Homo sapiens: one gene and its partners. The protein of the gene in region 2 purifies or fractionates together with the protein of the main gene of each other region. This does not show direct contact. Each region holds a gene or a part of one and is shown on either strand. Other genes may lie near its edges.

Region 1 (4,443 bases), on a different chromosome or scaffold from region 2:
GGCGAGAGTACAGGAAGACAGAGGAGGAGGCAGTCAGAGGGATCACTGAAGATGGGTAGTTTTCTGTGTAGAAAAGATGGAGTGGGACATTTCAATCAGAGGTCACTGCAAGTGCCGAGTATTCTTAGAGGGAAGAAGGGCATTTGGGAAGCATTGTATGATTTTCTAGGGGGCCTGGGGGATGGTGGGAGATGGGGCAGGAATGGAAAGATGGGGATGGGCCTAAGTGCCAGGAATGTGGACCTTATCTTGAGGGTGGAGGGAAACTGGTGAAGTGATGTTGTCAGACATGGATTAGAAAGGTCATTCTGGCTGCTGTGCAGGAAGAGTCAGAGGGAATGGGAGAGGCAGGGAGGGCAGTTAGAAGCTCATGGCTAAGGTCTGGGTGAGGGCAGAGTTGACGGGGAGTTAGGGGGCTGAATGATCAGAGGCAGCCGAACATTTTTTGAGCACTTCTCACAAGTCTCTTACTAGGAGATGGACAAACTACTCATATCAACCTTTTTCAAAGGAGGAAACTGAGGCACAGAGTATTTAAGTAACTTATCAAAGTCACACAGCTCATGAGCATGGAGCTGGATGGAGCTCAGGTAGGCACACCGGAGACCAGCGTGTTCTTTACCATTCTCTTCTGGCCTTGGTGACCAGAATATACATCCAAGTTTCTGCCAGGAGCAGGGATAAGTCACACATCTCTGTATCCCCTCCAGAGTTCTGTATGGGGTAGGCACTCAACCAAGGTCAATTCCACACTCCCTGCTGGGCCCTGCAAAAGGACCAGGACAGTCGAGCCACTTGCATTCCTGCTCAGAGGTCAGCTAGTGTCAGCACCACCTTGTTTATTTGGTCCACTTTCTTCTTCCAGCCCTTTGTGTGAACTCTGCACGCTGTCCTTTAGTGCTGGCGGGCATGGTCTCGGTGCCCGTCTCCATCTTTTGGCCATGCCAGTTGCCTCCTCATCAAACTGGAGTCTCCCAAGGGCAGAGCCTCAGACTCTGCAGAAAGCCTCGAGGATCCTGAGAGCAAGGATTGGTTTTCATCCATTTGGGGCTCCACAAGGGCAGGGGCTGTGCCTCCCCCTCCTCTATGATAACTCCTTAGTACCCTAGTTCCAGCTCAGCTCACAGTGGGCACAAGGTGGGAGCAAGGAGGCATGAGGGATGCAGACAGTAATGACCATCAATAGAGGAGGTGACTCTGCTCTTGGGAGTTTCTATCCCGAAGGGGCTAAGTCTCAGACCTGCTGTTGGGGCCAGCCAGAGACCAGACTCCAGGATCTAGGTCACCCCTGTGGCAGTACAGCTGATTTATGGTGGCCCTGACAGCCTAATGTCATCAAATTATCCCACACAATGGAGAGAGGCTGGGCCGCCCCCAGGCAGTCACCAAAGGACGCTGAGCCTGGGGCAGCCCGGCTGCCTCCGTATCCCAGACCTCCCTCGGGTCTGTGGGGGGAGGCTGGCACAGAACAAGGGCACACCCAGGCGTGCCACCTTCAGCTGGGGGTATAAGTAGGCAGCCCCAGGGACAGCTCTGTACCCTGCACTTGGGAGCCGGTAGCACTCCTATCACTGCTTCTCAACCCGTGAGCTACCAGCTGTGTCATGAGCTGCAGACAGTTCTCCTCGTCCTACTTGAGCCGCAGCGGCGGGGGTGGCGGGGGCGGCCTGGGCAGCGGGGGCAGCATAAGGTCTTCCTACAGCCGCTTCAGCTCCTCAGGGGGCGGTGGAGGAGGGGGCCGATTCAGCTCTTCTAGTGGCTATGGTGGGGGAAGCTCTCGTGTCTGTGGGAGGGGAGGCGGTGGCAGTTTTGGCTACAGCTACGGCGGAGGATCTGGGGGTGGTTTTAGTGCCAGTAGTTTAGGCGGTGGCTTTGGGGGTGGTTCCAGAGGTTTTGGTGGTGCTTCTGGAGGAGGCTATAGTAGTTCTGGGGGTTTTGGAGGTGGCTTTGGTGGTGGTTCTGGAGGTGGCTTTGGTGGTGGCTATGGGAGTGGGTTTGGGGGGTTTGGGGGCTTTGGAGGTGGTGCTGGAGGAGGTGATGGTGGTATTCTGACTGCTAATGAGAAGAGCACCATGCAGGAACTCAATTCTCGGCTGGCCTCTTACTTGGATAAGGTGCAGGCTCTAGAGGAGGCCAACAACGACCTGGAGAATAAGATCCAGGATTGGTACGACAAGAAGGGACCTGCTGCTATCCAGAAGAACTACTCCCCTTATTATAACACTATTGATGATCTCAAGGACCAGGTAGGTGCAGGAAACTGTCTCTGTCTTGGTCTCTTTCTCTTTCATTCTTTATCTTCCAAAAAAGTTAAAATGCTAAACTCTAAGCTCAGATAATAGCCAGGGAATCCACCTTTTGGAAATGTACGCTTTCATCAGAAACAAACTTGTGTTTGGTTTCTGGGGATCCCAGGATAGGACTTTGGCCTGTGCTCTGAGTGTTCACTTCCATTTCCTCAACTTTCAGAGTTTGGGCAGAGCAGAGAGGAGACCTGGGTTAACGTGAGCTGAGCTGGGACTGGATGTGGAACCTCCTTTAGGTTTGGTCTAAGTCAATACTTTCTCTTCCTTTGTACTTCTCCTGGGCTTCTTTAGGAGTGTATCTTGATCTTTTAAGGTATTTTGGACCTGACTGTACATGTTGGTTATTCAAGTGTTGGAGAGGATCCAGAAATCTGGGAATGGAAGCTATCTATCCATCCATCCTTCCATCTATCCCTTCCTCCCTCCACCCACATGTCTATCTATCTATCCATTTATTCAGCCACTCAGTTCAGTGAGTGCCTACCCTCAGGGTTGCTCTGGGTAGACATAGTGATGTGCTAGACCTAGTTCTGGTGGAGCTCACGGTCTGGCTCTTCAGTATTCTCAGTGATTCCTCTTGTTTTAACTCCTGCATGTCTCTGAATGTGCTGTTTCTTCTACTCTAAACCTCTTCCATTTATTTATTAATGTTACATCTTAGCCATCCTTCAGGGCCCAATTCAATTGCCAGCCACCTCCTTCCTGAAGTCTTTCTTGATCTCCCATTGCCATAAGCCACCTCTCCTTTCCTTGAACTCTTTTAGGACACTTTTGACTTTGTAGTCAATGGTGGGCTCCCTGAGGAACAGGATGTCAGTAATCTCTAAATCCTACAATGCCCTTTGCAGTAGATCTTCAAATATTTGTTGAATGAATGAATGAAGGCCACACCAAACATCTTCGCTGAAGGCTGGAAGGGGTCTGTGCCATGTCCCAGCTGTTGGAAGTTCCTCATTCCTCTTGAGAATCTTCCTGGATGGAATCCTCACCTCCTGTGGCTTTGCCTGGCCTCTTGCCCTCTCAGCAGTGGTCCACAGCATGATATCATGGCTGTGTCCTTTTTTTTTCAGATTGTGGACCTGACAGTGGGCAACAACAAAACTCTCCTGGACATTGACAACACTCGCATGACACTGGATGACTTCAGGATAAAGTGAGTCCTGCTCCTCTTCTCCTCTCCTGTCATCAGCCCTTACCCCTGAACCTCAGTGCTCTGGAGGTCCTGGTAGGGCCTGGTTCCCTCTTGATTGTTTTCTAACCCTGGCTGGTCTGCAGGTTTGAGATGGAGCAAAACCTGCGGCAAGGAGTGGATGCTGACATCAATGGCCTGCGGCAGGTGCTGGACAATCTGACCATGGAGAAGTCTGACCTGGAGATGCAGTATGAGACTCTGCAGGAGGAGCTGATGGCCCTCAAGAAGAATCATAAGGAGGTAGGTTGCTGGGGCTTATGGCTTACCGGGAAGAGGGAGGAGCAGAAATGCAGAGACAGCAGGGGAGCTTTGGAACATTACCTGGGAGACACCCTCTCCTTTGCTCTTGAGGACACTTTCAACTTCTCCTTGGCATCACCTATGGTAGTGGTTGGGCTTTGGCTTCACAACTGTGTCCCCTTTTTGTACCCTGGGGGGACCAGAGGGAGAATTCTGAAAGGTGGTGCAGAGGACTTTATCCGTGACCTCATCTCCCCTTCTTCCCTGGCAGGAGATGAGTCAGCTGACTGGGCAGAACAGTGGAGATGTCAATGTGGAGATAAACGTTGCTCCTGGCAAAGATCTCACCAAGACCCTCAATGACATGCGTCAGGAGTATGAGCAGCTCATTGCTAAGAACAGAAAGGACATCGAGAATCAATATGAGACTCAGGTGAGCAGAGTGGGCTGCCCATTCATCCTCCTCCCCTCCATCTATTCCTATCTCCATCCCTCCCACCTCCCATTCCTTCATCCTCCTATCTCTGCATCTCTCAGTGCAGCTGTCATTTATCCATCTTCCAATGGAAGTCATTCATCCATCTTCATTCACTGCATACAAACATCATTACAAAGTAGCTTCTCAGTGCCATGTTATATGTAAAGTATTGATGTCTCAGAGGTATTGATGTCTGATATGAGCCAAACAAGACTGCTGCCCTTGAG
Region 2 (3,649 bases):
CCCCTATCTTTAATGTTTTAGTTTAGTTATGCTATCGTATATAACAATGCAGTGAGCATACTTTTAGATAAATATTTGATTGTATCTGGTATTAAAATACATTTAAGGAGCTAGGCCCAGTGGCTCATGCCTATAATCCCAGCACTTTGGAAGGCCAAGATGGGAGACTCTCTGGAGGCCAGCAGTTTGACACCAGCCTGGGCAATATAGTAAGACCCCATCTCTACAGAAAACAAAATTAGCTGAATGTAATGATGTGTGCCTGGAGTCCTAGCTGCTTGGGAGGCTGAGGTGGGAGGATCATTTGATCCCAGGAGTTTGAGGCTGCAGTGAGCCATGATCGCAACACTGCACAACCTGAGTGACAGAGCGAGACCCTGACACTAAAACTTAAGTACATTTATGTTTAGTTTTTAATGATATTGAACATTTTTATGTGCTTTCTAGGGACTGTTTAAGTTGACTTTTGTATTTCCTCACACATCTGTGTGACGTTAGGTACAGATTGAGGGCATCTGTAACAGCTGAAATGTTCCCAAACAGGTAAAGCTCCAGATGGCTCTGGAACTTATGAGGAAAGAGTTGGAGGACGCCTTGACTCAGGAGGCCAACGTGGGGAAAAAGACTGTCATTTGGAAGGTAAGACCATGTTGGGGCTTTAGGAGGCTTGCCTGTTTGAAGGATCCAGATTCGGGTCAGTAATTCTTCTACCATCTTCCATTCTCCAGCACTTTTGTTCCATCTCCATATATGCCCAAGAGCACCTCAGAGCCATCCTGGGTCATCCCGTCCCCTCAAATGATATGGTTCATTTTTGTTCTTTTTGTCTCTACTGCCATCACCCAATCCAAATTATAATTAAATAGCTTTGCTAGTTTGATCTTCCTGTAAAACCCACTGCTGTATCCCTGTCACCTAGAATAGCATCTTATACTGTTGCTACCAGTTTGAAAATATTTGTTAGGTGAATGAAATAATGAATATTTCACAACTTTGTAACAGAAGAAGTGTAGCCCAAGGTGATCATCTTATATACAGGGTAATAATCTGAACGTTTAGCCTTTTTTTTCTATCATCTATACATACACATATTCCATTTTTTTATACCTCACTAGCTCTTTTTATTCCATGTTTCATTCATGCACATGTGCGTGCACACGTGTACACACACACACAGTGATTCATACACACACAGTGATTCACATACACACACACACACAGTGATTCTCAACCTGAGGCGATACCTGCCCCCCAAGATAACATTTTGCAATTTCTGGAGATGATATTTTTGGATGTCACAACTGAGGAGGGGTGGGTGCAGTGCACCTGTCATCTAGTAGAGGCAGGAATGCAGCTTAACACCCTGTAGTCCACAGGACAGTTCCCATATCTTGTGAGGAAAAAATGATCTGTTCAAGATGTCAGTAGTGTCAAGATTGAGAAACTACGTATAGAAACTGTGTGTATAGTTCTATATATTCATATAATGTATTATATAATATGATATATAATAGGTTATACTTTGCAGAATATTCCTATTCTTTCTCCTTTTCCAAATAACCCTTCTTTTCTGATCACTCTATATATTTATAATTATTTCCTTCTTGTTTTCTTTGAAAATTTAGTCTTATACTCTGTCTTTATACAGATATTACATAAAGACTTTTTAAACTATATTTTTCTTTATTTACTACATTACTAGATTACAATATAGATATATACGGATAGGAAAAGATAACACTTATCCCAGAAGAAACATGTACATTAAGGCCAGGCGTGGTGGCTCACACCTGTAATCTCAGCACTTTGGGAAGCCGAAGCAGGTGGATCACCTGAGGTCAGGAGTTCGAGACCAGCCTGACCAACACGGAGAAACCCCGTCTCTACTAAAAATACAAAAAAAAATTAGCCAGGCGTGGTGGCACATGCCTATAATCCCAGCTACTCGGGAGGCTGAGGCAGGAGAATTGCTTGAACCTAGGAGGCAGAGGTTGTGGTGAGCTGAGATCGTGCCATTGCACTCCAGCCTGGGCAACAAGAGTGAAACTCTGTCTCAGACAAAAAAAGGAAAAAAGAAAAGAAAAATGTACATTATAGGTAAATGATGTAGATAGTGATAGGAAAGGATAAAAGTTATCAATATTAAATAATATTGATGTTAATAACATTAGTACCTAACGTTACTCAGATGTGTGAAGAAATATTTAAACTTATTAACGTTGATACTGACAAACTTATCAATATTATTAACAAATATCTTTAAACTAGTAGTGACAGTATAAGATGCAATTCTAGGTGATAGGGATATAGCAGTGGGTTCTGCAGTAAGATCAAGCTAGTAAAGCATAGTTTCGATTGGGTAGTGGCAATGGAGATAAAAAGAACAAGAACAAAGCTTTACAGTATTAAATAATGTTCATTACTTGCCTATAATGTACATAGTGGTAGGATGTACATTATTTAATATTGTAATATTGATTGATAATTTTTGTTCTTTTCAGGCTGAAATACAAGTCAGTTGTTTTCAATCCTGGCCTGACCATAGATCTATAAAATCAGAATCCCCATATCGGAGAGCTGAGTTCCTGCATGTTTTAAGCCCTCTACAGATTATTCTTAAGTAGGGATGATACTAAGATCCCTGTTCTAAGCCAAGTAAACTTGCATGATCATTACCATCAAGAATGTCTCCATGTGAGCCAAATGCAGCAAACACATCTTTGGTCAAAAGTTATTCTAAATACTGCAAAACCACCTTTCCTTTTTCTCTGTCTGCAGATATAGTTGTGCTCAAGAGGGTGGTGTGAAAGGAAGATGGATTGCAGGCAAATCGCTTCCCACCTTCCCACCTCACACCCCCTCGTGCCCCAGGTATGACTCTACCCTTCTCCAGTGGCTGCGTTATTTGCCCCACCCCACGACAGCACAGCCTCTGATATGAAGAGAGCTTCTCATATTTACATGAGTTACACTTTCAGGAATCAGTGTATGGAATTCAGACTTGGCTGATTTCAGAAAGAAGATGAAGTTTTCTGAATCTGGTGATTTAGAAAATGGTGGAAGGAGGTAGAGATGGAAAATGGAAGGAAGTAGTTAAGTCTTAGGGGATGTTTAGTTTAAAAAGGTGATAGCTCATGCCTTTTAGTCAAAGCAAGAAGTTATCACGTTTAAAAACAGGCAAATAGGCTGGGCACAGTGGCTCACGCCTGTAATCCCAGCACTTTGGGAGGCCGATGCGGGCCGATCGTGAGGTCAGGAGTTTGAGACCAGCCTGACCAATACGGTGAAACCCTGTCTCTACTAAAAATACAAAAATTAGCTGGGCATGGTGCTGCGTGCCTGTAATCCCACTTACTCGGGAGGCTGAGACAGGAGAATCACTTGAACCCAGGAGGAGGAGGTTGTAGTGAGCCGAGATCGCGCCACTGCACTCTAGCCTGGGTGACAGAGCGAGACTCTGTCTCAAAAAAAAGATTAAAAAAAAAACCAGGCAAATGACTTCACCTACAAGGCCGTATAACAATGTAACAAAACTGCATTTGTACCCCATGAATATATACAAAAAATAAAATAAATCGATAAAACAGGACAGAGAATGGGAGGTATAGATACTTTGAGGGAATAATTTACCTCTCGTACTCAGCTTAAA
Region 3 (3,649 bases), on a different chromosome or scaffold from region 2:
CTACTGAATCCACTATTTAGGAAAAGCCGCATTTCAGCATTCTGGTGGGTGACATGACATTTAATTGTCCTAATATATGAAAACTTCAGGCTAAGAGTTACAGCTAAAATTATCTGTGGATTTCTATTATCCACCTACACTTAATTTCCCTTAGTTGCCCAAGGGCTCCTGCCCTCTCCTTCCCTCATCCCTTCAGCTTAAGTTGTAGATTATGGTCTGTACTATTTCTACCTCTTGAACTTCCTTCGGTTGCACAGGTGACTGCCCCTCCTTCAGAATGGCTTCCCTTGGCTTCTGCAGTGAGCTTTGTTTCTCACTCCTCGTAGGACCCTCCACCTGCATGCCTCCTGTCGCCCATTCCCATGGCCTCAATCCCCCACATGACGAAAGCTGCCGGAGCTGTGCCCATCCTTGCCATAATTCCTGTTGTATACCTAGTGGTCTTCCAGGGCACTCCACTTGAGTGTACCAAGGCCTTTCAAATACAGCATTTCCAAGACCAACCATTTCCTCCTTAATTAAACTGTCCCTCCCCCCATGTATCTTCCCAGTGAAAGAGCCATCAAATATCACTCAGCTCAACACCTACGTCTACCACCTAGTCACCAGTCAAGGCAATTCATAAAATCAAACCAGACAAAAAAAAAAAAAAAACACCTGAAGTTCAAGAGGTTTACTGTACAACAGGCAGGTAGAAATGTATTATGCATCTGAAAATAAGACCATGTTGTACACCATAAGTATATAATTTTTGTCAAATAAGAAATACAATTTTTAAGCAAAATATAATTAATTAATTACAAAACACAAGACCTAATCTCTAGCTTGGATCTGAGATATGCTTCCTCTGTACCTACTTCCTTTCTTGGCAGTGCAACCCGTTAACCTGAATTCTACATGAAAGAGCTTTTACAACGTCAGGAAATGAAGCTCCTCTCATGCATCTGAAGCATGCAATGGAGCAGAGAAAGAGCACACACTTATGACATTAGCCATGGCATCCTAAAGACGTTCAAGACTACCCAGAACCACCTGAGAATCGATTTCATGTAGGATTACGTATCTCTGCCTCGAATTACACTATATTGGTATATACAGTAATATATTTTAGGAAAATTGCGAATACTTTATTTTTATAATTTGAATTGTTTTCCCATTAACACATACCACCATTTATGAGACGCTCTGAGTGACTGGCTGTTGTAAACGTCTTACTGACTGCCTCCCCACCACTGCCACCTACCTGGCTCCCTTCCTTACGTTTTCAAACTTTAATACATTTTATGATCAAAACTTTGGCAATGTAATGAATATTTTTGTAATAACAATTTCTTTTCATTGCTTCTCAAAGTGTGAATGATACACCTTTCCTATCCTTTTTTTTTGGAAATAAAAGGGAAATAAGCTTGCATGTCCCTTAAGGAGAACGCTCAGGAAAGTAAGTATTTCCGCTCCCAGGAAGTCTGCATTATGCTTACTGGCACGGCACCTCTAACCTGACCATTTGAGATCCTCCAATGACTATTTCCTTGGAGCATCACGTTGGTGCTCAAAAAGCTTCAGATCTTGGAGCATTTTGGATTTCCAGATTAGAGACACCCAAGAATATAGTCTATTCTTGATGTTTTAAACACTGCAAAACGTGAGGTAGGGTAGGTTTATTTCAAAGCTGCCACCCAGGATATTCAAAGCGGCATCTCCTGCCTAACACCAGATGTCCAGGCCACCAAGACCACACTCTCCTGGGTCTAGAATGTATCTGAAGGGAGAGGATGTACTGGGGACGAGTTCTTAGATGCGGAGTGACTGCTTAATAATCAGCACATTATTTCAATTTAGGAGTTACAACTCATCTTCCATCCTTCTTAGCACAGGAATGAATCATTTTAATATACTATACTAGCAAAAAATCCACACCTAAAATGCCTCTAGTATAGTGAAAGGGCTCCCCCTACCAAGGCCTCAATCGCAGGGAGCAGACAAGACTCTCAGAAGATCCTTGCGTTTTCCTTTCTTCCTCCAATCTGATGCCACTTCGCCCACCTCTGTATTGCTTTGCTCATTTTTCTTCTCCAGATTGTCACTCAACTTGAATTTGTCTATATTTATCTTATTTCCTCAACTGGATAAGCTCTCTTTAAGGTCCAGACCTGACGTTTCTTATTTTTTTCTATCTCCCATGACCTACATCAAAGAATAAGTATTTTAAGAAAGCATTTGTTGATATCATTGCTCCCAGCGGAGGGATTGCTGTGCAACCCAGAAATCAAATGAGTATTTAATAGCAAGAGCTGTAAGGGGGCACTCACTTCAAATCCAACATTTCTGCGCTTTGCTTTCTTTATGGCTCTATTCTTCAAGACTTCCTCACTGGCCATGGAGAATGTTCCCACCTGCAATACAATACAAATTAAGCAGCAGTAAGATAAAGCCAAACAGATGACAAAATCCTCAACAACAACAACAAGCTAGAACTGAGCCACTGTGTCCGGCCTCTCAAAAATAAATTTTGGCCAGGCACAATGGCTTGCGCCTATAATACTAGCGCTTTGGGAGGCCAAAGGTCAGGAGTTTGAGACCAGTCTGGCCAACATGGTGAAACTCTGTCGCTACTAAAAATGAAAAATTAGCTGGGCATGGTGGTGGGCACCTGTAATCCCAGCCACCTGGGAGGCTGAGGCAGGAGAATCACTTGAACCCTCCGGGAGGTGGAGGTTGCAGTGAGCCGAGATAGCACCACTGCACTCCAGCCTGGGCAACAGAGCAAGACTGTCTCAAAAAAATAAATAAATAAATTTTGTTATTTATAACATACACATGATTTTTAAGATGAGTCCTGCCCAACTTGCCCACTGTACGAAAGGCCACGGAGGCACCTAGGACCTTGCTGGACAACCACTGCTCTTCCACAGTGCGCTCAAAGCACACTCATGTCCACACTTCTGATGTCCACGTCAGAAAGCTGCTGAATATCTTCGGCTTTAGTTTATAGCCCTTCTTTTACCCTGTAGGGTCGGAATAAAATATTTCTCATGCAAAAATTCTCACCTATAGTTGTTTCAGATCATATTAAACTTAACGGGCTCCTACACTCATAGAGGGGACCATCTGGCTGCACTTGCCCCAAGTTAAATGTACTTAACTAAATGTAATCTTTCCACACATTTCATTGGCATATGTTCGAATGGGAGTTCTTTCATTCCTGAATATTTTAATGTCTAAGCAAATAGTTACATGGTAATCTAGATGTTACTATAGCCCAGAATGTAACTGTGCTTAAGATCTTAAACCAACAACAACAAAAAACCAAAAACCCCCATAACCAAAGATTTTAGTTAAAAAGCACCAAATCAGTTTTGACCCTGTCAAAACACTCACATCCTTGGGATTCTGGTTTCCCTAAACATATGTGAGGAGATACACTTGTAGAGAAAAAAAGTACTAGTACCAGAAAGATTCCAAAAGAAGGAAGATGGCCGTCTAAGAATAAGCTTGGAAACAGTTGCAGTTTTAACATTTTTCTTTTTTCACTTAGCACTATGCTGTTAACCTGAAAGTCGTGGTTACAGATTTCCTTAGTCATCTGGCCTGGGGGTAACACACTGCTGATAAGGTACGACTGTAGAGTCCAGCCCTACTGGGCTTTGCG

What was found.
Region 1: the proteins of TRIM58 (region 2) and KRT9 purify together in Homo sapiens (affinity purification with mass spectrometry, with the first as the bait; one large-scale study listed by BioGRID). This does not show direct contact.
Region 3: the proteins of TRIM58 (region 2) and NUP50 purify together in Homo sapiens (co-immunoprecipitation; one large-scale study listed by IntAct). This does not show direct contact.

What each region holds. Positions count from the first base shown.
Region 1 is NC_000017.11:41,569,154-41,573,596, reverse strand, and holds the start of KRT9 (keratin, type I cytoskeletal 9), read left to right. Parts: upstream 1-1,537; 5' UTR 1,538-1,604; coding exon 1,605-2,246; intron 2,247-3,376; coding exon 3,377-3,459; intron 3,460-3,581; coding exon 3,582-3,738; intron 3,739-4,009; coding exon 4,010-4,171; intron 4,172-4,443. UniProt on the Homo sapiens protein: May serve an important special function either in the mature palmar and plantar skin tissue or in the morphogenetic program of the formation of these tissues. Plays a role in keratin filament assembly.
Region 2 is NC_000001.11:247,860,074-247,863,722, forward strand, and holds part of TRIM58 (E3 ubiquitin-protein ligase TRIM58), read left to right. Parts: intron 1-543; coding exon 544-639; intron 640-3,649. UniProt on the Homo sapiens protein: E3 ubiquitin ligase induced during late erythropoiesis. Directly binds and ubiquitinates the intermediate chain of the microtubule motor dynein (DYNC1LI1/DYNC1LI2), stimulating the degradation of the dynein holoprotein complex.
Region 3 is NC_000022.11:45,170,344-45,173,992, reverse strand, and holds part of NUP50 (nuclear pore complex protein Nup50), read right to left. Parts: intron 3,006-3,649; exon of another isoform or gene 2,816-3,005; intron 2,394-2,815; coding exon 2,310-2,393; intron 1-2,309. UniProt on the Homo sapiens protein: Component of the nuclear pore complex that has a direct role in nuclear protein import. Actively displaces NLSs from importin-alpha, and facilitates disassembly of the importin-alpha:beta-cargo complex and importin recycling.